Homo sapiens: one gene and its partners. The protein of the gene in region 3 interacts with the protein of the main gene of each other region in a biochemical or structural test. Each region holds a gene or a part of one and is shown on either strand. Other genes may lie near its edges. The genes, in order: MAPK9, GTF2I, STAT3, FYN, RPS6KA1, RPRD1B and PML.

The links.
Region 1: of the proteins of STAT3 (region 3) and MAPK9, one has a biochemical effect on the other in vitro, tested with the Homo sapiens proteins (one study listed by IntAct).
Region 2: the proteins of STAT3 (region 3) and GTF2I form a complex in vitro, tested with the Homo sapiens proteins (one study listed by BioGRID).
Region 4: the proteins of STAT3 (region 3) and FYN form a complex in vitro, tested with the Homo sapiens proteins (one study listed by BioGRID).
Region 5: of the proteins of STAT3 (region 3) and RPS6KA1, one has a biochemical effect on the other in vitro, tested with the Homo sapiens proteins (one study listed by BioGRID).
Region 6: the proteins of STAT3 (region 3) and RPRD1B form a complex in vitro, tested with the Homo sapiens proteins (one study listed by BioGRID).
Region 7: the proteins of STAT3 (region 3) and PML form a complex in vitro, tested with the Homo sapiens proteins (one study listed by BioGRID).

The regions. Positions count from the first base shown.
Region 1 is NC_000005.10:180,236,584-180,240,083, forward strand, and holds part of MAPK9 (mitogen-activated protein kinase 9), read right to left. Parts: intron 3,405-3,500; coding exon 3,341-3,404; intron 1,821-3,340; coding exon 1,749-1,820; intron 1-1,748. UniProt on the Homo sapiens protein: Serine/threonine-protein kinase involved in various processes such as cell proliferation, differentiation, migration, transformation and programmed cell death.
Region 2 is NC_000007.14:74,734,218-74,737,717, reverse strand, and holds part of GTF2I (general transcription factor II-I), read right to left. Parts: intron 2,258-3,500; coding exon 2,186-2,257; intron 1,219-2,185; coding exon 1,035-1,218; intron 1-1,034. UniProt on the Homo sapiens protein: Interacts with the basal transcription machinery by coordinating the formation of a multiprotein complex at the C-FOS promoter, and linking specific signal responsive activator complexes.
Region 3 is NC_000017.11:42,378,443-42,381,942, forward strand, and holds part of STAT3 (signal transducer and activator of transcription 3), read right to left. Parts: intron 1-3,500. UniProt on the Homo sapiens protein: Signal transducer and transcription activator that mediates cellular responses to interleukins, KITLG/SCF, LEP and other growth factors. Once activated, recruits coactivators, such as NCOA1 or MED1, to the promoter region of the target gene.
Region 4 is NC_000006.12:111,698,953-111,702,452, forward strand, and holds part of FYN (tyrosine-protein kinase Fyn), read right to left. Parts: intron 1,317-3,500; coding exon 1,152-1,316; intron 719-1,151; coding exon of another isoform or gene 563-718; intron 1-562. UniProt on the Homo sapiens protein: Non-receptor tyrosine-protein kinase that plays a role in many biological processes including regulation of cell growth and survival, cell adhesion, integrin-mediated signaling, cytoskeletal remodeling, cell motility, immune response and axon guidance.
Region 5 is NC_000001.11:26,557,261-26,560,760, reverse strand, and holds part of RPS6KA1 (ribosomal protein S6 kinase alpha-1), read right to left. Parts: intron 1,955-3,500; coding exon 1,824-1,954; intron 36-1,823; coding exon 1-35. UniProt on the Homo sapiens protein: Serine/threonine-protein kinase that acts downstream of ERK (MAPK1/ERK2 and MAPK3/ERK1) signaling and mediates mitogenic and stress-induced activation of the transcription factors CREB1, ETV1/ER81 and NR4A1/NUR77, regulates translation through RPS6 and EIF4B phosphorylation, and mediates cellular proliferation, survival, and differentiation by modulating mTOR signaling and repressing pro-apoptotic function of BAD and DAPK1.
Region 6 is NC_000020.11:38,043,746-38,047,245, forward strand, and holds part of RPRD1B (regulation of nuclear pre-mRNA domain-containing protein 1B), read left to right. Parts: intron 1-3,500. UniProt on the Homo sapiens protein: Interacts with phosphorylated C-terminal heptapeptide repeat domain (CTD) of the largest RNA polymerase II subunit POLR2A, and participates in dephosphorylation of the CTD by RPAP2. Transcriptional regulator which enhances expression of CCND1.
Region 7 is NC_000015.10:73,997,716-74,001,215, reverse strand, and holds part of PML (protein PML), read right to left. Parts: intron 3,213-3,500; coding exon 2,740-3,212; intron 1-2,739.

The DNA of each region.
Region 1 (3,500 bases), on a different chromosome or scaffold from region 3:
GGCAGCGAGACTGCAGGCCATTTCTCGGCTCTGTCCTTTTGCAGTTTCCCAATCCTAACTATGAGTATAGACAAGAAGTCAGTCAGCTGGACTTTCTGAACTTTTCCTTGAGTCTTTCTTTGGGCCAAGAGTCCCATATTCCTATGTCTTTCCTTGCAAGATTCTTCTTTTTTTCTCAGTAGCTAAACATATATGTGGCCATGTATAATCATGTTAGCTACTTAAAAAATACCTGCTGCTTTCAAGCAGACATCAAAAGGACACAGCTATATTTATCTGAAAATGCAGTATCACAAAAGCTTAAGCCTGACTAGGATTCCAGTGTCACCAGACACTTGAATTGTAACAATTTATAACATAAACACTAAATCTACAGGAAAAAAAGCATCAACTTTCAAAGAAATCTTTTGCAATAAATAAAGACTATATACCAGAAAAAGGAAAAAAATTAGTGGCCTTGTATATTTTATGGTTTTATAACTCCAGAAAACTGACATTTTAATCTTTTAAAGCAAATGAAACTATCCTACTTCCTACTATCCATATTTTAGTCTGGTTTGAATAAAAACACAACATGCACTCTCTGAGATCGACGTCTGCAGTCATACGTGTGTGCTCAGTTAACAAGCACCTAAGTTCTTGCTGAAGTTATATAATCTCTAGATGCTTGACACATACGTCATGTTGAACATAAAATTCAAGAATAAAAAGTAAGCTGTGCTCTCTGCACATCCGCACACATGTGTGTGCATGCTTCCCAGTGGGAGTGGGAGAGAGACAATGATATAACGTGAGCGTTTCATTTAGTAAACAGGAAGAATCCTTCAGACGTAAGTGAACACGACTCATATCAGAGTCTCATGATCATACAACTACCTGGTCATTAGAGGCTTCCACCACTATGAAGATCAGTAGATCAAGCAGAAAAATGGGAAAATGATATCAACAATTTTCTCAAAAAGAATACCATACTCCATTTTACTTAGATTGGCATTTTGGGTGGGACCAGTACAAAGGGTTATCAACATTGAAAAGGCTTTAAATTCAATTTCTTCATCTGTAAATGGAGGTGACAGCAGTTATTGCAAAGATGAAAGAGAAATGCTTATAACAAAGTTCAGTGCCTGGCACATCAGTAAAATGTCATCCACCACCACCACCACTATGACAAGCCAAAAAGGCTGGCTATTCATACAGCGGTTTTTAAATCTGATGCTAGCCAGGCTGGCATTTCACATGTTGCTGCCATTTATAAAAGTTGAATCGGGAAAGACGCCAGGTGCGGTGGCTCACGCCTGTAACCCCACCACTTTGGGAGGCTGAGGCGGGTGGATCACGAGGTCAGGAGATCGAGACCAGCTTGGCCAATATGCTGAAACCCCGTCTCTACTAAAAATACAAAAATTAGCCAGGCATGGTGGTGCGTGCCTGTAATCCCACCACTTTGGGAGGCTGAGGCGGGCAGATCACAAGGTCAGGAGATCGAGACCAGCTTGGCCAATATGGTGAAACCCCGTCTCTACTAAAAATACAAAAATTAGCAGGGCATGGTGGCGCGTGCCTGTAGTCCCAGCTACTCGGGAGGCTGAGGCAGGAGAATTGCTTGAACCCAGGAGGCGGAGGTTGCAGTGAGCAGAGATCGCGCCGCTGCTCTCCAGCCTGGGCGACAGAACGAAACTCTGTCTCAAAAAAAAAAAGTTGAATAGGGAAAGAAAAATATCATACAATCAATTAAAGCAATCACTAACCTGAAGGCTGATCTTTTACAACACCATTCTTGCTTCTTTCTTCCCAATCCATGACTTCTTTGTAAATTAGCTCTTTAATAAAAATACAAGTTAAAATGCTTAATCAGTTTCTAAACAGTTTCACTGTATCTCTAAACTCTGCTTCCAAATCAACTGGAACAAAGGCATTGCGATTTGTTATTTTTAATTGTAAGACAGAGTCAATTCAGTAATATAGTCTACCTGGACCAAAATATTCATATTTTGATACATTATATCTTTTCTTTTCTTCTTCTTCTTTTTTTTTTTTTTTTTTTTGAGACAGTCTCATGCTGTCATCCAGGCTGGAGTACAGTGGCATGGTCTTGACTCACTGAAACCTCCACCTCCTGGATTCAAGTGATTCTCATGCCTCAGCCATCCAAATTGCTGGGATTACAGGTGTTCACCACCATGCCTGGCTAACTTTTGTAGTTTTTGTAGAGACAGGGTTTCGCTATGTTGGCTAGGCTTGTCTTGAATTCCTGGCCTCAAGCCATCTGCCCCACTTGGCCTCCCAAAGTCCTGGGATTACAGGTGTGAGCCACTGCGCCTGGACTACATTACATCTTTTTCAATGCAACTAGTAAGGCAGCAAAACATGTAGGGTGGTTCTGGATCCATAAGGGGGCTTTATGAAGTGGAGTGGCTCCCACAGAACACTGTAGGGGATTGGATATTCTCACACCCATTTGAATATGTTTCTCTATGTGGTTACTTGGGGTTCTCCAAAGGTAACCAGCACCCACATGTGGGCTAGGAGCCCCCCACACTGGCCAGAAATGAATCCACAGGCCTAAGTCTTTTCTTAATTTCAACTTCGGTTTTCCTCAACTTTCATCTGTAAGAAAAACTAATTACCTACGAAGTAAGTGATGAGGGATTCCTAAAATGTCAGTATTCATAAACCAACATTAGCACGTTGCAAGCATTCGCTGAGGCCAGTGAGCATTGACTGAGGCCAGTGAGCACGCTGTGTGCATGCACTGCTGAGCACGGGCACACACAGGTAACCGGCACTCCCACACCCCAGGATGGCCCTGGGGCATGACCCTCATCAGTGTTGACTGACTCTGACTGTGGTTCTCAGTTACTACTGATCCTGCTTCTTAATGAAAAATTGTTAGTTCAACCTCTTCATTACAGGTATAGTTTGTTGTGGGTTGTTTGGTTAATCTTATAGTGGTAATAATACCTATTTGCATATTTTCAATCTGCAATTTCCCCCAAACTAGATTTTAAAACATATGTACAACTACATGGCTTAAAAACATATCAATCAATATAAGTATGATACAATTACTAAGCTCAGTTTATAAATCAATATGTGAAAAGCCATGAAAAAAATATTATTTTTCCCTCTTGAAGCAAATGATAAGAAATTCATAAATGTTCCTCTCTAACTCTGTTCTCTTCAAGTTCATTTTCTACTGGAAACTGGGGAGAAAGAGGCTAAGTGGGTCGCAGGGTTTCTTGCCCCTTCCTGAAGGGAAATGTCACAAAATGAAAAGCCTCTGCTCTACAGGATTGGAAGAAATGTCAAAAGGAAGGATCAAAATAAGCTCCATCTTTACCTTTCCATTCTTCAATTGCATGTTCTCTTTCTTCCAACTGGGCATCATAAATTTGAGGTGGTGGCTAAAAATTAAATCATATGTAAAGTCAACAGTAATGCCTCAAAAAAAAATGAGGCACTAAAAAAGGTAAAATTGCTTGGAAGACTTCTAGTCTATT
Region 2 (3,500 bases), on a different chromosome or scaffold from region 3:
CTATCCCTTATAACTCAGTCCCAACAAACACACAGAGGCATGACCCCAATCAGTAAGGAAGGTTTACCCTTCCACATCCCGTCAATGAGTGGAGAGAGGCCTTCTGTTCCTAACCCCGCACCCAAACTAACCATTGTGTTATCCTTCAAAATCAAGCCAGAATTACCTTTCTAAAGGGCGGATCCACATTATTTTCAGAGGCATCTGCCTCGAGACCACTTCGTGACTGCCTCTGTGTTCGTAGGATCTCAGGCCTTCCTCCACTTGCCCACCCAAGTCGATCCATGCAACCCCACCACGCCCACGTGGCAGTCCTCACTCCACACACGGTGGGTGAGTTCTGTGGATACGCAGGCATATTTGCCACCTCCTCCCCCTACTCATATGATTTCCTTCACTTGAAACACCTTCCATCTCTTCTGGATGCACAAGTGACCGAGCTGGGTGTGCCATCCTTGCCTTCTCCCTTAAAAACGCTCAATAACACTTCATTGCATTTTTCTATTTTTTTTTTTTAATTATTTTGAGATGGAGTCTCGCTCTGTTGCCCAGGCTGGAGTGCAGTGGCACGATCTCGGCTCACTGCAACCTCCGCCTCTAGGGTTCAAGTGATTCTCCAACCTCAGCCTCCCGAGTAGCTGGGACTACAGGCTTGCACCACCGCTTCCAGCTAATTTTTGTATTTTTACTAGAGATGGGGCTTCATCATGTTGGCCAGGCTAGTCTTGAACTCCTGACCTCAAGTGATCCACCTGCCTTGGCCTCCCAAAGTGCTGCGATTACAGGCGTGAGCTGCCGCGCCCGGCCTTCAGTGCATTTTTCTTTGTATGAAGGCCCCAAGGACAGTGTTCTTGTTAGACCCAATTTTGCACATCTGATGCTTATACTAATATTTGTTCACTAAGTGAATCTAAATATTAATGCCTTCATTGTCAATAGAAATAAGTCATAAGGTAAACAAAAGGCCCTTCTTCATCAAATTAACCTCTTCTCAGGGAAGACACTGAAACTATTTCTACAGATTATCATCTTACCTTTTAATAACAAATTTAATTCGATTGCCCACTTGAATGATTTTTTCCAGCCTTGGGATTCCATACCATGAGGGACTTCGGAAAGGAATGTTTTCTGGCAGTCCTTCCACGTACAGATCATTCGGGTGTGCCTCAAATTTTTGGTACGGTACAGCCTTGGCTTCAGTGCTCCCCAAGGCTTCCGCTGGACAAAAATCAAAGCAATTCGGGAGACTACATTTGTATTGAAATCAGATTTTAGTACAATCCAAAGAAAGGCACAGGTCAATTTTGTTTTACTTGAAAAAAACTCTTTCTAGAAACATATTTATTAACTATTGAATAGACTTAATACAGCAAAGACAAGTAGAGATGACCGATCATCAACAGCCAGATTTGGGCAGATTTAAGTGTCCTGGTCCTAAGACAATCTTAATAGCTCTGAGATCTTTAAAAGATTAAAGTTTGTTTTTCAATATCCTTAGGAAGAAAAGAGAGAAAGAAAATCATCATGGACAATAGAGGACACAACCTAAATACTATCTGGAAGCAGCCTTTTGCTACTAACTGTTCAGGACCGTAATTACCCTCCTCCATCGGCTATGGCAAACTGGTAACACATTTCCGACTACACTTTCATCTGCGTGGCAACCAGATCAATGTTCTTTACCCCTTCAACCTCACGAGCATGCCATTTTAAAGGAAATAACTTTCCACAGATAATTCATAGAATGGGGGCCGGGCGCGGTGGCTCACGCCTATAATCCCAGCACTTTAGGAGGCTGAGGCGGGTGGATCACCTGAATTCAGGAGTTTGAGACCAGCCTGGCCAACATGGCGAAACCCCATCTCTACTAAAAATACAAAAGTTAGCCAGGCGTGGTGGCGGGCACCTGTAATCCCAGCTACTTGGGACGCTGAGGCAGGAGAATTGCTTGAACCCGGGAGGAGGAGGTTGCAGTGAGCTGAGATCGTACCACTGCACTCCAGCCTGGGCAACAGAGCAAGACTCCTTCTCAAGAAAAAAAAAAAAACCCAAAAAAAAAAAACAGGGAAAACTAAAGCTGAGTCCTATTCACTGTATTTACTTTCCTAAAATAAAACAACATTTAAAAAAATGTTACTCAGTAATACATTTTAGTTGAAGGGGTAATTAAAAAAAACAGACTTACCAAATTTTTTGCAGAAAAGCTGATCCACCATCTTTCTTAATTTAGTGATTCTGGCATACCATTCTTCCTTTACTGTCAAAATAACAGTAATACAAGTGTTCTCAATTTAATGGGTTTAATAACTTGATTATTAAACATTATTACTATAAAATAAGAGGTATAACTTTTCCTTTTCCTATGGCCAAAATTATTTCTAAGATTCGTGGCCAGGTGCAATGGCTCACACCTGTAATCCCAACACTTTGGGAAGCCGAGGCAGGCGGGTCACTTGAGGTCAGGAGTTTGAGACCAGCCTGGCCAACATGGTGAAACCCCATCTCTACTAAAAATACAAAAATTAGCCAGGCGTGATGGCGCACGCCTGTAGTCCCAGCTACTCATGAGGCTGAGGCAGGAGAATCGCTTGAACCCAGGAGGCAGCGGTTGCAGTGAGCTGAGATTGCGCCATTGCACTCCAGCCTGGGCAACAGAATGAGATTCCGTCTCAAAAAAAAAAAAAGACAATAATAAAATTATTCCTAAGATTCTAGAATGTATTTATTTCTAAAACAATGCTGACACTGTACAAAAAGAGGAAGAACGAAACATTCATTAGAGCTAGGAAAAAGCAAAACTCAGTGTATTCAGGAACAGCTAGCAGGTAACACTTGCTACAGGAAGATTAGGGCTATGATCTTGCTGCAGTCCTTCTATCTTAGTAAATATCAACAGGGTGATTCCATTCTGTTTTATCCTCACTCCACTCCACTCCAGAGCAAAAGCAAGCAAGAAAATCAATTATATTTCTATTTATTTTAAAACACATCTAACAGGCTGGGCGCGGTGGCTCATGCCTGTAATCCTAGCACTCTGGGAGGCCGAGGTGGGCAGATCACCTGAGGTCAGCAGTTTGAGATCAGCCTGGCCAACATAGTGAAACCCTGTCTCTACGAAAAATACAAAAATTAGCTGGGCATGGTGGCAGGCACCTGTAATCCCAGCTACAGGGAGGCTGAGGCAGGAGAACTGCTTGAACCCAGGAGGCGGGAGGTTGCAGTGAGCGGAGATCGCACCACTGCACTCCAGCCTGGGCAACAGAGCAAGATTCCCTCTCAAAAAACAAAACAAAACAAAACAAAATACATCTAACAATTAAGAGATGATATAAATGGCTCCATGCTCTAAAAGGAAACCTTCTTATGTCCTGCATATCATGGACATTCAATGAATGCTTGTTCCATTGACTCGTGTAGACTTCAATAATAAACTGTTCAATGCATTATGCCAGATAAATCTTGCATCAAAAGTAGAACAAATATTGTTCTTTTACTTCTGT
Region 3 (3,500 bases):
CACCAAGTCGGCAAGGATGGTCTTGAACTCCTGACCTCAAGCAATCCACATGCCTTGGTCTCCCAAAGTGCTGGGATTACAGGCGTGAGCCATCGCTCCCGGCCTCCTAATTATGTTTCATTTTGGTTAATGTTTCAATAAATGTGCTTTCCCTAAACATACTGATGAAAAGAGGCCCAAATGCAAAACTGATTTGTCGAGAAAGTCAGTCTGAGATGAAATATTTATTATGTCTAAACCACAAGTAGAAAAAAATTCAAAGGCCGACTATTTCAATGCTAACTCAATGCAATATTGCACTTTGTTTGGTTTACGGGAGAGGTAATTTACACAGCTAACATTTGGGTTTTCAAGATTACATTGTGGGGAGAGAAGGGGAAAACAAGAAAAGTCTAATGCTTTTAGATTCTGTCAGAAAAAGTGTTTGCTAAAAAGCAAAACAAAATGAACATGAGAAAAAATGTGAAAAAACATGCATTTTAGGAAGCTTTCACCGAAGCAGGTGCTCAAGTTCAGACTCAAATCTTCCAACTCTTGTAATAAAAATGAGAGGTCAGAATACCACAAACTAATCAAATCAATCAAACAAAGCGGGAAACAGGTGGCTGACACCAGACTGGGCAGGGTTTTCCTAAATTGGGCTTACCTTCACTAATCCAAATCAGTTTTCAGAAATGGCTTCTACAAAAACTACCCAAACATCCCCCTAATAATTTGCACTCCTCCTCCACAATAGGGAAGCCAAGCCGTTTATTTCCCAGAAGGTTTACTTTCTCTTTCAAGCTCTGCTGGCTTCTTCCTGCCCCGCATACGGCCAGGAAAAAAGAAAAGCACTGCCTTTTCTTTCCTGCCTTCTCTAAAACTGGGGAGATGGGGTGAGAGAACCTGTTTCATGGACAAGCTGGGTGGTTCTTAACTGCAACACTGTTCTGAATACAGATTAGTTTGCAAAGGAAAGTTACAGGACAGGAAAATAAAGGTCTACCCCTCCAACTAACTCATACACATGTACATTTGCATGTACGCACACACACAGATGTGAGGGCACATTTAATTCAGCTGAGTAATGTGCAGCAATCAGCTCCCAGCTTCATACCTGGCCACCGGGATGCCTCCTCACTCCCACCTTCTTTACCTGACTCAAAATAAGGTTCCTCCTGTTGGCTTCTTCCTGAGACACAACCAACTCTAATCATTCCTCTTCCCCTCAAACCTTCAACACTACCTGCACTTTCTGGGTCGGGAGCAATTCCTTGGGTGGTAATCCATTTTTAATGTGTTAAATATTACTTAAAATAAGGGAGAGGTAATCATGGACTGTGGGCAATGCAGAGATTTATCAGAAGGGCATTTGTGTAAACAGGAATTTACAGTTTGCCTTACCTATTCCTTTTATATGACAGCCTCAATTTCCTCTAACAGAATGTAAGTCCCCCATCCCTATTCATTTAGTTTTTTTCCCATTAGGTTAGAATCTGCTAATTATTCTTTCTCTCCTTTGGGTCATTAGTGGCTGCCATGAATCATAATTTGCCTGACTTTGTAATATCTAACAGATATTACCATTTTAGTTTAGTTTTTGATATGACAGTTTTTTGTTTTTTGTTTTTGTGACGGAGTCTTGCTCTGTCTCCCAGGCTGGAGTGCAGCGGCGCGATCTCAGCTCACTGCAACCCCCACCTCCTGGGTTCAAAAGCAATTCTCCTGCCTCAGCCTCCCGGGTAGCTGGGACTACAGGCACCCGCCACCACAACAGGCTAAATTTTATATTTTTAGTAGAGACGGGGTCTCACTATGTTGGGCAGGCTGGTCTTGAACTCCTGACCCGCCTCGGCCTCCCAAAGTGCTGGAATTACAGGCGTGAGCCACCATGCCCGACCTCCTAATTATGTTTTATTCCACCTGCCCCTATGTATAAGCGTTACCACCCTAATTATGCTTTTTGTTTTTCGGTTTTTTTGAGACAGAGTCTCACTCTGTCACCCAGGCTGTAGTGCAGTGGCACGATCTCGGTTCACCGCAACCTCCGCCTCCCGGGTTCAAGCGATTATCCTGCCTCAGCCTCCCGAGTAGCTGGGATTACAGGTGCCCACCACCACAACTGGCTAATTTTTATATTTTTAGTAGAGACGGGGGGGGTCTCACTCTGTTGGGCAGGCTGGTCTTGAACTCCTGACCTCAGGTGATCCACCCGCCTTGGCCTCCCAAAGTGCTGGGATTACAGGCGTGAGCCACCGCACTCGGCCTGATATTATAGTTTTTAATAAGAGTAATTCAGCCTAGGCAACGTGACGAGATCCTGACTCAAAAAAATTAGAAAATTAGCTGAGGGTGGTAGCACACACCTGTAGCCCCAGCTACCCCGAAGGCTGAGGCAGGAGGATCACTTGAGCCTAGGAGGTCAAGGCTGTCATGAGCTGTGATCTCACCGCTGCACTCCAGCCTAGGTGACAGAGTGAGAACCTGTCTCAAAAAATAAATAGTAATAATAGTAATTATTAGCACTTGAATGTTACCTGTCTGCCCGGCACTATGCAAAGTACTTGATATGCATCATCTTGCTTCATCCTCTCAATTACTCTACAAGTGGACCTCGTTTCCACAATTGTGGACAGAGAAACTGAAAACCAGAGAAGTGAAAACAACAGGCCCAAGGTCTAAGAGAAGGCAGAACTGGGATTAAAGCCCAATAGGTCTGACCTGATAGTCCACTCTTTTAACTGCTATAGTAACTTTGGACCATGAAACCCTCAAACATACCAACCAAGTGTTTCAAAACTACAATAGCAATCACCTTAGGAATACTCAAAATATAAGTTCTTTGGCTGACGCAGTTAAAAATTCAAAGGTCAGGTAAAATTTCAGTGATGAGCAAGGTCATTTATTCTTATGGCTGGGGGTAGCAGGAAGGAAAGCCGGATCGTCGAAGCATTATTTTCTTGTAGGGGCAGATTTACCTTCCTTATTATTCTTTTGCTAGGCTGTTAAAAGGAATTTGGAAGGCCAGGCGTGCTGGCTCACGCCTGTAATCCCAGCACTTTGGGAGGCCGAGGCAGGCGGATCACAATGTGAGGAGATTGAGACCATCCTGGCTAACACGGTGAAACCCTGTCGCTACTAAAAATATAAAAAAAAAAACATTAGCTGGGCGTGGTGGCGGGCGCCTGTAGTCCCAGCTACTCGGGAGGCTGAGGCAGGAGAGTGGCGTGAACCCGGGAGGCGGAGCTTGCAATGAGCCAAGATAGCGCCACTGCACTCCAGCCTGGGCGACAGAGCGAGACTCCATCTCAAAAAAAAAAAAAAAAAGGAATTTGGAATAAATATGTCTCCAAGATAACCTGGTAAACAGAAAGGGCTGCAAAAAATCTGAATAAAAGCAAGTCAATTAACAGGATACATGTAAAACACACATTTTATATTCCTACAAGTCTTTTTTTTTATAATAGCATGTTATTACTTTTCTAAAAAGGACAAAATAACTTATTTTAATGACATTTAAA
Region 4 (3,500 bases), on a different chromosome or scaffold from region 3:
GGCACCTGTAATCCCAGCTACTCGGGAGGCTGAGGCAGGAGAATCACTCGAACCTGGGAGGTGGAGGTTGCAGTGAGCCAATATCGCGCCATTGCACTCCAGCCTAGTGATAGAGCAAGACTCCGTCTCAACAACAACAAAAAGGTATCATTCCAATTTTACAGATGAAAAAACTGAGGCTTAAAGGAGTTAAATATGCCCCTTGTTCGTGGTTAATTAGCTAGTAAGGATTCAAACCCAGGCCCATTGAGCAAAACGTCCATGGTCTTTCTTATGGCTGCCCATATACAGTATCTTACCTTCCCATTTCTTAGGAAGAGGAAACACCAGATTCATAGTGTACTGGTTTCCTGTTCTGCGGGTGCCTTAATTAACCACATGAAGTAGGACAGATGAGCACAGCAAGGTATCAGCATATTCTGAAAATCTGGATGGCCTGTGCCCGTCTAGTTATCCAGGTTAAGTGTCTTTGTCCCAACGGCTGTGTGTGCATTTTTGTTCAAAACCATCCTTTTAATCGGCTTTGAGATGCAGCCAAAACAAAATGTGCCCTCTGCCTTACCAAGCCACACTTCAGCGAAACACCCCTGACCCAGCTTCTTCTCCAGACACAACGAACGACGTGCAACTTCCCAAGCATCTTTAGCCAATCCAGAAGTTTGTGGGGTACAACTCGATGCAATCACAGTTAAGTTAAAACACAAACCATCAGCTTTCTCTACAGGAAAGGGAATTAATAAAGAAAACACAGTCCTTATAATCCATAATTATGCATGCACTAGGAAAGATGGAAGGTGACTTGCCCGTTAGGATGACACTCAACAAATATTTGCTTTTGGAAATGAAGAGCAAGATATTTTATGGCAGCTGGAACATTCCTTGGACCATTTGCTGGTTTATGAATTGAGAGTCATGTAATAGTACAACTTGAGCCATTTGCCAATTTTGCCCACTTACTATCTTTTTTTTTTTTTTTTTTTTTTTTTAGGAATTCCAGAATGTTAAAACCAAAACTGAAATTATTATTCCCCACTATTAGTAATTCAAACTTTCTTCCCGGTCACGCAGTCTTTATTTTCACCTTCCATCTTTGGTGTTTGGGATCTTCCAAACGGGGAAGCTAATAAGAGAGTAATTGAGTCTCAGCATACCCATCCATACTTCCCCAAACTGCCCATTTCCCAGTCTCTTGATCAACTGCAGGGATTCTCGAGGGATTTCCCAGACATCTTTGGTTTTGACAGACAGATCGGTAAGCCTTGGCATCCCTTTGTGACAGGGAACTACTAGGCGGCAGCAGAGACCTGCAGCTCTCTCTGATGGAGCAGGGCAGGGGCAGGAGAGGGAGAGAAGAGCAGAACACATGTAATGACAACACTCATAAGTGTAAACCCACACTAGCGGCGCACAGTGCTCCTCAAACAGTGCTACTACACCAGCAGACGACCACACACATCGTGGAACACTAGCAGCACACAGCGCTCCTTAAACAGCGCTACACCAGCAGACGACCACACACACGGTGGAAGATCAGACGCCACACACGGAAACATTTTCATTGGAGGTAGAAGAGAGGACGTTTTAAATTTAGACTACTCCATGAGCCCAGGTACGATACAGTCTATACATAGACATACACGCAGACTGCTTTGGTTTCTGTACTCACTGAGGAAGAAAAACGTTTTCAGCTCAACGTGCTAATAACATGTTTTTGGGAATGCTGAAAATATCCTTACTAATTTCAAACAGTGGTTTTGGATTAAAGAATGTCAATATGACTGTTCTTCCCCACCTTTAGTATCTAGATTACCCAGGGGATTAGGGATCTCTCTATATGACTATACTTAAAATTATAACTTTAGTGGAGGATCCTTCTATAGGACATTAAACTGTTATAAACTAGTAAGGTTGAAGATTATAACTGGTGGGGAAAAAAAGAAGTAACTTTTTTTAGTGATTTCTTCGCTTTCTAACTGATTCCATTCCACCATGTCAGATACTCCTGGGCTGCTTCTTGGATATTTTCCATTAAAAAAAAAAAAACAACTTTTTAACAGTCTTCGACGTATAATTTAGGTGTCTGGTTTGAAAGGAGAAAGAATGGAAACTAAAATTCACAGAAATTCAAGATGTGAAAGAATGTATTCTTTATAAAAAAAAGAAGAAAGGAAAAAGTAGTTAACACTCGGAGGTTTTTATTCTTTCTTTGTCTTCTTTCCTTCTTTCTTTCTCTTCTTTTTTAAAAAGAATATAACCTTTTAGAATCTGGCAGTGCTAAGGGGAACTTAAATGCCAAGTAAAAATCAGTCAGGCGAAAAAAGGTAACAAAGAATAAGAAATCAGGGAGTGACAAAAGCTGACAGAGCCTGCCTTGTGAGGTGGACAGACCTCCCGCTCCCTCCTGGCAGCCCCCGGACCCAGGGAAAGCAGATGTGCTGCTGGGCTGTAACTTGCTTTTTACTCCTTTCTTTTTGATGGAATCAGGCTCTGAGATGTTTAGGTAGGAAATTATTTATGTGTCAGCATTTCAAAGGCATTTTATTGTGTGAGAGAGAAAGAGGGAAGAGGGAAAGCCAATATAAAAACAAGTCTAACGTGAGATGGATTTTTTTTCCCCGAGATTAAAAAAAGTGTCTATTGTTCATATCCCCTCTTTCCTTCCAGCTTTACAATGTTATTAAGGTGCCCTTTCGAACACAGTATTTTCAAATGATCCAAACCCTGGGGATCCTGCTGATGTTTGGCTGTAATGAAATATATTTCAGCATTTGAAAAATCCTTACAACATGCAGGCATTTTGAGTATATCACTTAAGCTCAGGGAGATATTTTGTTCCATTTCTCCCAAATGTTTCATTAGAATCCACATAAACCGAGTTAGCCAATGCCATAATCAACTAGTACTGCAAGTGCTGTTAATATTTTCTATTGTTCATTAGTGCAAGGGATCAACAGACATTTCTTATTGTCATTTTCGAAAGATTGCTTTTTCATGCCAAAAATTATACATACATATTTCAATGATTGTGCACAGAGCAATAGTAGAGGTAAATCATATACTATTTTTGAGTCTTGCCTTTGTCCTGGAGAACAATAGAAAATGGAGAAATGGGTCACACAAAAAAATATCTCTAGGCTTAATAGGATATAGACATGTGTCTATACATGTGCACCTATATCTATAGGCACATGTGAACATGTATTATATAGTGGCATATAATACTTGCTAATCTAGGAAAGAAAGCAATCATTTTAACAATTGCACATAAAACCAGTCTTTGATAAAATGTATAAACTGCATATCTAATAATTATATGTTTTCAGAAAGAACAAAATAATGGTGATATCTGGGTGTTAGGACAGAAACTGATGTACATTATAAAAGTTTAATTTAACACAATAGACATAATAGATCTAAGAGCTGTGGGTTGTGTAAGTCTAAGCCTAGTTAGGAAACAGCAGTATTGGTGGGGAACATGATAAATGGCTTGCATGAGAATG
Region 5 (3,500 bases), on a different chromosome or scaffold from region 3:
CCGTCACTAAAAACCAGGTTCTTCCCATGGAGTTGCTGTAGGAGACCAAAAATTGTGGCTGACCCCTGGCTCTAGAGTGCTAGGGGTCATCCCCCAGGACCTAAGGTCTTGGCTCAGTAGAGACAGCACCAGGGAAGGGCCAGGAGACTTGGGGTAGAGTGTTGGCCATGTGACCGCAGGTGACAGCCTGCCCCTCTCTGGGCCTCAGTTTTCTACTCTATATAATGGGCATACTCACTGGCTCCCAGCCTGCCTGGACTGCAGCCTGTGGTCAGAGGGCAGTGTAGGGAGTGGGAAACAGGGTCACAACACACATGGAGAGGACTTTAGTTCTGAAAAGTCTGGGCAGGCCTGGGAGGGACGCAGGAGCCCTGAGCTGAGTTCCAGCTGTGCCACTAAGTACGGCTTTGAGTGGCCTGCCTCCCTTTCTGGGGTGTCACAGCTCAACTCATGGGGTGTCTCAAGGTTCTGGGACATTAGCCGTAGCAATGCTGAATGGTGCTTAGTGTGTGCTGTGTGCCAGGCACTATTCTAAGCACTTTCATCAGGTGACTGCATGCCCCACGGCCAGCCCTGGCTTGCGCATGCGGTCCTTGCATCCAGTCTGATTTAATATTTGTCCTGGACTAAGATGTCCCAGTTTGGAAAATAAATTACATAGTCACCTTAACTTTATTTTTTATTTTATTTATTTATTTTTTGAGACAGAGTCTTACGCTGTTGCCCAGGCTGGAGTGCAGTGGTACGTTCTCAGCTCACTGCAACCTCTGCCTCCCAAGTAGCTGGGACTATAGGCACGCGCCAACACGCCCAGCTGATTTTTGTATTTTTAGAGACGGGGTTTCGCCATGTTGGCCAGATGGGTCTGTTTAAATTCCTGGCCTCAAGCAATCCACCCTTCTTGGCCTCCCAAAGTGCTGGGATTACAGGCATGAGCCACCGTGCCCAGCCCACATGAACTTTACATGTATTAACTCTAATAATCCTCATAACAGCTCTATGGAGGAAGCTTCTATCATTTCCCCCATTTACAGATGAGGAAACTGAGGCACGAGGAAGGGAGTATCTCATCCAAAGTCCATTATCTGGTCAGGTGCTCATGTCTGTAATCTCAGCACCTTGGGAGGCTGAGGTGGGCGGATCACTTGAGGTCAGGAGTTTGACACCAGCCTAGCCAACATGGTAAAACCCCGTCTCTACTAAAAATACAAAAAAAAAAAAAAAAAATTAGCTGGGTGTGGTGGTGTATATCTGTAGTCCCAGCTATTCGGGAGACTGAGGCAGGAGAATTTTTTGAACCTGGGAGGTGGAGGCTGTAGTGAGCTGAGATTGTGCCACTGCACTCCAGCCTGGGCAACAGAGCAAGACTACGTCTCAAAAACAAACAAACAAAAAACCCCAAAGTCCATTATCTTGTGAATCTGGAACCCATGCAATGAGCTCCACAGTCTACATTCTTGCCTCTCAACCTGAAACTTTCATTAGCAGTAGAAGTGTACAAATGGGGAACAAGTGTGATGAGATCCAAGTCCTTCGCTACACTTATGCCGGAGACACGACAGTCACTCGGCACCACCACCCTGGGCACCTCCTGACATGTACCCAGACCCTGGCTCTGTGCTGGGAAATGTACACCCATATCATCATCCAATTATCAGGGCCACTGTGTGAGGTGGGCCTTACTGTCCCTGTTTTATGTTGGAGGCCCTACTGGTCCCACAGTGGCATGAGGGTATGAACCTGGTTCTGTCCAACTCAGAGCCTGTGTACTCAGCCATTCTTTAGAAAAGGATAATGGAGCAGCAGCCCCCTGCCCCCCTCACCTGTACCACCGAGTGCAGGGGTGCCTGCGGGGCACGAGGCTTGCCGTCGTCTTCCATCAGGCCGGTGGCCACGAAGCTGAAGCCCCGGAACAGCTGATGGGCCCCAGCGCTGGGGGGGATGCCTGGGGAATCTGTACGGATGGAAGGAGAATGTGAGGGTACCTGAGGAGGTCCCCTCGACCCTGAGGCAGCCCAGCAAAGGGGGAGCACAGGGCCTCCAGACCTGCCTCAGGGGCTGGCCGTGGCGGGAGCCTGCAGAGGGCCTGTCCATCACAGGCCTTGGCCCAACTGCTCATATGTGTTTATTAGACCAGCCCAGTCCTGTCGCATGAGGAACAAAAAAGACTCTCACATCCACCTCCATCCCAGGCCAAGACAGTTCATCCCTTCCTGGATGCTTCCTCCCCAGCTTCCCCATCTTACGTCAGCCCCTTCAGGTCCATCTCTGCACAGCAGCCAGAGGGAAGGTTCCAACCACAAATCTGCCACCCTGCCCACACCTTTCAAAGGTTCCCGTCTGCCTTCAGGAGTAAGTCCAGCTCCTGAGTCTGGCAATTGAGGGCCCTGTGATCCTCACCTCCTCTCTCTCCATACCACAGCTGAGCCATGTTGGACTTCTCAGATCCTTAGAGGGGTCTCTGAGCCCTTGCACACACTGTTCCCTTTAACTAGATAATCCACTCCTTGCCTATCCTTCAAGACTCAACTCGCACGCTCCCTCCTCTGAGAAGCCTTGCCTGATGCTGCTCCTCCGGCCCCTGACTCCTACGAAGCTGCACTTGTCACGTTGCCCAGCGGACTGCTTGGAGAAGTGCTGTCTCTGTCATCAGAGGCGTGCAAGTGCAGTGAGAAAAGCACCCCCTTGTGGATCACCTGAGGTCAGGAGTTCGAGACCAGCCTGGCCAACATGGTGAAACCCCGTCTCTACTAAAAATACAAAAATTAGCCAGGCGTGCTGACACATGCCTGTAATCCCAGCTACTCGGGAGGCTGAGGCAGGAGAATCTCTTGAACCCAGGAGGTGGAGGTTGCAGTAAGCTGAGATCACGCCATTGCATTCCAGCCTGGGCAACAGAGCGAGACTCCATCTTGAAAAGAGGAGAGGAGAGGGAAGGGAAGGAGAGGGAAGGGGAGGGGAGGGGAGGGGAGGGGAGGGGAGGAGAGGGGAGGGGAGGAGAGGAGAGAAGAAAAGCACACCCTCTCCTAAAACATGCCCTTATAGGAGGTTTCCCAGAACATTCCACCCCACACCCACTGTCAATATCTGGCCAAAAAGTTAGGATTCACCAGGTTCCTTCCCAGAAGCTCCCTCACTGGCTTCTTGTAGCAACCCCAGGGAATGAGTGGGTTTGTGGCTGTGCCCTTGTTCCAGATAAGTACACGGAGGCCGGGCAGTCAGGGCAGCCAAAGCTGATTCCCATGCCTGTCCCTGACCTATGGGCACTGTCACCTCTGCTCAGCCACCACACAGTGTGGCTGGGTCAGATTCTTTCTCCCTGACGTGATGGTAAGCCTGATGTGTTTGGTCTTCCCAGTGGGCTGGAAGGTGCCCCGGGCAGGGGTCCTGGCTTTTCTACTGTGGCCTTCACCACCCACACATCCCCACTCCCACTCTCTCACCAGACACAAAGAGACCCACAGAGCCCCATAGTGAGAGAGTCGGGCGGAGTGAGACAG
Region 6 (3,500 bases), on a different chromosome or scaffold from region 3:
AAAGAGAAATCAAAGACGATTTCTAGGTTTTTGATGTAAGGAATGACTGATGGTGCCCTTTACTGAAGTGAAGATTGGGGAAAAGATTTGGTGGAGGAAATCACGAGTTTTGTTTTGGCCAGGCCGAGTGTGAGGTGGCTAGTGAATATTCCAAGGAGTGATGCCAAATAGGCAGGTGGATAAAATAGTCTGAAGCTCAGTAGAGACTTGATTTCTGGAGACATAAATTTGAGAGTTACCCACATGATATTTACTTATTGTTGTGGGCCCCAAGACCACTCCCAGGTTTGGTGATTCCCTAGAATGACTCACAGGGCTCATCATGTAGTCATAGTCATGGCAGTGATTCATTACAGCTAAAGGATCCAAAGCAGCAGCAGCAGCAGAGGGTGATGTGCATGCAGTACCCGCAGCAGACTGGAGCGCTCTGGGTATAAGCTTCCGAGTCCTCTCTCAGTGTTATTCCACAAACACGCTTAATTCCTCTAGCACTGAGTTGTGATGTGTATGATGTGTAACCTACCAGGAAAGCTCATTAAAGACTCTGTGCCCAGAGTTTTTATTGGATTGGTCATGTAGACACCCTCTGCCAAAATTCTAAGCTCCCAGAAATAAATCAGGTGTTCATTTTTTTTTTTTTTTTTTTGAGACGGAGTCTCACTCTGTCGCCCAGGCTGGAGTGCAGTGGCTTGGTCTTGGCTCACTGCAAGCTCCGCCTCTCGGGTTCATGCCATTCTCCTGCCTCAGCCTCCCAAGTAGCTGGGACTACAGGCGCCCGCCATGATGCCCGGCTAATTTTTTGTATTTTTTAGTAGAGACGGAGTTTCACCATGTTAGCCAGGATGGTCTTGATCTCCTGACCTTGTGATCTGCCCGCCTTGGCCTCTCAAAGTGCTGGGATTACAGGCGTCAGCCACCGCGCCAGGCTCAGGTGTTCATTAAGAACCGTATTGCTTGCACAAACAATTTAGGCCCAGTAAACCACCCTTACCAGTTAGGAAATGGTAGGGACACTCGGAAATCCCAAGTTCCCAGACCACTTCCCTAAGGGTAGCAGTCTGGCCTTCTGTGTTAACTCCTTTCTGAACCAGCTTTACATGAGGTACTGTTGGAAGTGTAGGGAATACTTAGAATTCCTGCCCTTAGTAGGCCTACCATAGGCCTGCTGTGCATGAGATAAGACAGAGTTGTACAAATTACTGTGGTTGTACTGAAAAAGTGCCATAGAACTGTAGAGGAAGAAAAGGCCCCCAAGGCTGGCTTTGCAGGGACTCAGGTGTCCAGCTGACACGTCAAGCAGCCAATTCTGTTTGTGTGTATCATATACATTTTTCACTCTTAAAGGTCAGTTTTGCTATCTGTATTGAAAAATAAAGTGATTGAATTTGTTATTAATCAGAATTAAAATATGAAGTGTTCAACGTAATATTAAGTTGTGTATGTAATTATTTGCCATCTTCCACTTTATTCATAGATTGTTGGCAAAGATTGTTCAGTCTTTTTTTCCACTTAAAGATTTCTCAGTTTAGATTGGAGTTAGTACAACCTGAAAATATTTCTCTTTCTGTTATAAAACGGCTTTATTACTTTGGTTGTATCTAATTCCAGATGCCAAAGTGACTTCCATTTCGCTGGAGCTACTTCCTTCAAAACCTAATCAGTAGAAAGATTTCTTGAATATTTTATGTATAACTTTGAAACTTATCTAGCAAAACTTTGATTTACCACAATGTTCAAGGAAATATCTGTCCTGGTTAGTTATATTCACTAATTAAACTAGAACCCCCCTTTTGGCCTTTAGTAGTAAAAGCCTTTTGAAAATGTTTTGTGGTTATAACAGGTTTGAGCATCATTTTCCACTGTGCCTGAAACTGTACACAAAACCAGTCTTAGCCTGAATGGAGTCCCAAGTATCTCCAGGAATGGTGGGTGGTGGGTGTGTGTTGTGATACCCACCTACTTTTAAACTAAGTCCTTGATAAGAATTTATTCTCGAGACTGGTTTCTCTTTCTTTTAAGCGAACAGAGAATCTGCAGCAAACAGATTTTATGCTAAAAGTACCAGCTAGTTCATTAACTAAGTTCTGATTAGTTGCAATTTGGTTTTACTAATTATAATGACTTTATTTTTCTAAGCTATACATTTGCTCACATTAGGGACCTCCCATTGCCTGCAGGCCACGTGCTTTAATATGGCATTCAGGGCTCGCTGTAATTGAATTCCACCCTCCTTCCAGATTCTTCTGCAGTTTCCGCACATTCCCCCATATACTTCAGCTACTTGAATTACTCCTTTCCCTTTGCCTTGTTCAATTTTGGCTATTCCATTTGAAGGAGAAGAGATAGCATGAACAAAGGCACATGCACATGAGAGAACAAATTCTGAGTAGCAAATACATACGGGTGGGTGTTGCTGGAATGCAAAGTTCCAGGTAGGGTAGGGAAAGGAGACTAAAAACAGGTCTGAGGGATTGCTGAGTCGAGCCCTAGAGGTCAGGACCCAGGCCTTCTTATTCTTTGTAAACCTTCATTGGTCGAGCTGAGGAGTGCTTAGTTGATTTCTGCCATGACCTTGATACAGTAAGATGATTGTTGAAAGTTAAGTAACTGTATTACTTACCGAAACCCATATACATTTTTCTGGAAAAGATTACAATTTGACAGATATTCATTGTGCTTGTTCAAGGGCATATAGCAATGGGAGAAAATGACAAATCTGCACCCCTGTGGAAATTACATTCAAATGGAAAGCGTGTAAACAAAAAGTAAACTATTGAATATACAGCATACCAGAAAAGTTGTATGGAGAAAAATTGAGTAGGGGCAGGGAGTGTTATTTTCAACGTGGAGATTAGGGAATGACACACTGAAGGTGGTGTAACTAAACATACCCCTGAAGGAGGAGAGGAATTGAGCTGTGTGGCCACATGGGGAATGTGGTTCCAGGCAAAGCAAACTTTTGAAGTGCTAAGGCTCTGAGGCAGTGCTAGGGTAGCTGTTGTTGAGGCAGGAGGTTGGAGGACGGGGGTGGGGAAGAGTGGGTAGGAGATGAGGCCAGGGAAATAACAGCTGGGTTGGGAAAGGCCTTGGAGTCTTTATAAGGACTTTTATTCTGAGGGATACTGGGAAGAAATGTTGGCAATTTTGAACAAAGGAGTGACGTGGTCTGCCTTAGTACAGCAGCTAAAATTGTATTTTGAAAACTCGAGAACAGGTTGTAGGAGGACAAGGGTGGAAGCGAGGAGACCAGTAATGAGGCTACTGTAGTAATGCAGGCGAGAGATGATAGTGCCTTGGGCCAGATTGATAGCAGAGGAAAAGATGAGAAATAACTCATTTCCGGATATATTTTGAAGGTGGAGTAAAAGTGTTTTATCACAAATACCAAGTAATTGGGTCATATTTTTAAGCTTTATAAAATTAGCAGTAGAAATGTTTTTCCTTTTTTTTCCCGAACCCTCACTTCTGACTTTAAAAAGTTTAACAAAAAAAGAATTAAT
Region 7 (3,500 bases), on a different chromosome or scaffold from region 3:
AAAATCAGTAAGCAATCTAAGGAAAGACTAAAAGTACAGTACTTTGAAAAGACTGCTAAACCACAAATATACAACATCAGAAATAAAAAAAGGGGGTATAGTTACAGGCATATAGGAGATTTTTAAATAATGAAAGATAACTCAGGATGAACTGGAAAATCTTCCAAAAATCTGACACAAGAGCCAAAACAGATTAATGCCATGGCAAAAATGGGAAAAGTTCCCAAAAATCTACTATAAAAAAGGCACCAGTTCCAAGATGGTTTTTCAAAAAACTTTTATAAGCCTAAATTTCTTATATTCTTCAAATTGTTCTAGAGCAGAGAAATTATAATAGAATTTTAACATTCACTGAGTATTTAATATGTGCCAGGCACTACGCTAAACAATTTATATGTACAGTTGGCCCTCAGTATCTGCAGGTTACGCACCCGTGGATTCAACAAATCTTGGATCAAAAATATTCAGGCGAAAAAAAATCAATTAAAAAAGTACCACAATAAAAAAATATACAAATTCAAAAATATAGTAAAACAACTCTTTACATAGCATTTACATTGTATTAGGCATTATAAGTAATCTAGAGATGACTTAAAGTATACAGGAGGGGATGGGTACAGTGGCTCACACCTGTAATCCCAGCACTTTGAGAGGCCTAGGGAGGGTTGCTGCCTGAGCCCAAGAGTTCTCAAGACCAGTCTGGGCAATGTCGTGAAACCCTGTCTCTACAAAAAATTTAAAAATTAGCTGAGTGTGGTGGTGCACACCTGCAGTCCTGTATAATCTGGTGGCTGAGGTGGGAGGATTGTTTGAACCCAAGAGATTGAGGCTGCAGTGAGCCACGAGTGCAGCACTGCACTCCAGCCTGGGCGACAGAGCAAGACCCCGTCTCAAAAAATAAAAATAAAATAAAAAATAAAGTATACAGGAGGATGTGTAGAGGTTATATACAAATACTATGCCATTTTATATCAGAGACTTGAGCATCTATGAATTTGAAACAGACTCCCATGGATCCCGTGGGATGGCTGCATTATCACGTTCAAAACATGAAAGCTTACAAATTCATTAAGAAATTAGTATAAGGCTGGGCATGGTGGCTCATGCCTGTAATCCCAGAACTTTGGGAGGCCGAGGCAGGTGGATCACCTGAGGTCAGGAGACCAGCCTGACCATTATAGTGAAACCCTGTCTCTACTAAAAATGCCAAAAAATTAGCCAGGCATGATGATGTGCACCTGTAATCGCAGCTACTTGGGAGGCTGAGGCAGGAAAATGGCGTGAACCCGGGAGGTGGAGGTTGCAGTGAGCCGAGATCGCGCCACTGCACTCCAGCCTGGGTGACACAGCGAGACTCCATCTCAAAAAAAAAAAAAAAAAATTAAAAAAAATTTTTTAAATCCAAAAGATAGAACCAGAGATAAAGCCAATTTCTCCTAATTTATTGCAATTTCAATCAAAATCCAATAAATATGTAAGTTTTAAAACTGCATAAATTGTAAGAGCAAAAGAAATGCATACATTTTTTTCTTTCGAGGAATTTGTTCCTGAATTCTTTAATTAGTCCCTTAATTCCTCAACGGAAACAACAACAACAACAGGCAAAGGACCTAAACAGGCCACTCGCAAATGCAGAAACACAATGGCCAATAAACAAGTGGAAAGCCACTCAACCTTTACAATAAGCTAAGAAACGTGGTGATACCAGCTGTTGAGGAGTCGGAGGGGAAAGCTTATTCTGATAGTGTGGGAAGTTTATCCTAAAGCAGGAAACAAATCACAGTCAGTTTAGCAGATATGTAGTTCAGCAAATATGTGGTTTAGCCATATATAGTTCTGAGTTGTCAAAAACCAGCGAAAAATGCTTTCATTTTGCAAGTGGATCTCTAAGAACCAAGAAGCGCCTTCTATGAACAATCTATTGCTAATGGTGAAAAGTTCACATAGTTATGCTACCTTTTTGGCTAAAAGAGGGAAAATAGGACCTGATAAGATTGCTCCTACCTGCATATATATTCGTAAAGAAACTCTCAGAAGAAACATTCAAAACTAGTAACAATGGCTACCTGTGGATGGGAAGAGGGAGAAGTGGTGGGAATTAGGCAGTTGGGCATGGACAGAAGATTGCACTCTCTCTCTCCTCTTTACAAATTTTGTTCGTGAACTGTACGAATGTATTACCTATTAAAAAACTGAGTTAAAATCTGTTTAATAAAAATAATTACAACTGGATGTGATTTTTTTTCCCCATACAGACATTCTCAGATAGCGCTGCCTGGTGTTAATGGTTTCAACTTTTCAGACAGAAACTAACTACTTGTCTCTGATCCTAGAATCCAGCCTTACTGAGATTCCGTGTCAGTGCTCTCGGAAAATTCCACTAAATTCTAAAGGGCAGTTTGGTAACATGTATCAAATGTAGAATTCCCGTCCCCCTACACCCAGCAGTGGCACTTCTAAAAATTTATCCTAAAGAAGTTACTGGATAAAGATGCAAAGATGATTCTGCAGCATTATTTATTACAGGAGGAAACTGGAAACTTACTATCCACCTGCGTGGGGACTGGCAGCATAAATTGTGGTCATCAACACGGACACTGCATATCTGCAGACCACATTTAGAGTTGCAAGGCCCCAGAAGCTCCTTGTCCTCAGCTGTGTGACTCTTTGGATCTTTGCTCCTCTCGCCCTCTACCTGGTACTTGGATGCACCACCCCACCCTGTGCCGGCCTACTCACCTGGTCAGCGTAGGGGTGCGGTGGTTGGGGTTGGAGCAGAAGATGTTGTTGGTCTTGCGGGTGCCGTCCAGGAACTCACGCACCGACTGGTTGCGCAGCTCTGCTAGGGGCCGGGCCTCGTGCTTGAGGAACCACTGGTGTGCCTCGAAGCACTTGGCGCAGAGGAGCTGCTCGCACTCAAAGCACCAGAAGTCGGCCGACTCTTTGCAGCGGGTGCACACAGCCTGCGCATCCACAATCTGCCGGTACACCGACAGGCGCCGCTGCAGACTCTCGAAAAAGACGTTATCCAGGGCGGGTGTGTCTGCACCTAGGGGCCAGGGCGCCTGGCAGATGGGGCACTGCATGCCCGACGCCTCCAGGCATCCTGAGCACAGCGTGTGCAGACAAGGCAGCAGCTTCGGGCACTTGGCTTCCGCCTGGCATTGCTGGCAGCGCAGAAACTGGAACTCCTCCTCCGAAGCGGGGGCTCGCTGGGGGACCAGAGAGGCAGGTGAGGCCTGGAGAAGTCCCAAAAGCCCCCACCTACCGGCCAACCACCCTTACAGCTGGACCCTGGAGTAGGACCTCATATTCCATTCCAGCCAGTCATTGGATGATGCAAAACCCTGGCTTATCAGCACCCCAATACCCCCATTTATTCAGGCCCTCCAGCTCTCACTGCACCATTTATTGAGCATCTACTTCTCATCACCCACAGTAATAGGCTCTGAGATATAAGAGGTGTAGGATACATTCTGCCTTCAAGGAACTCAGTTTGG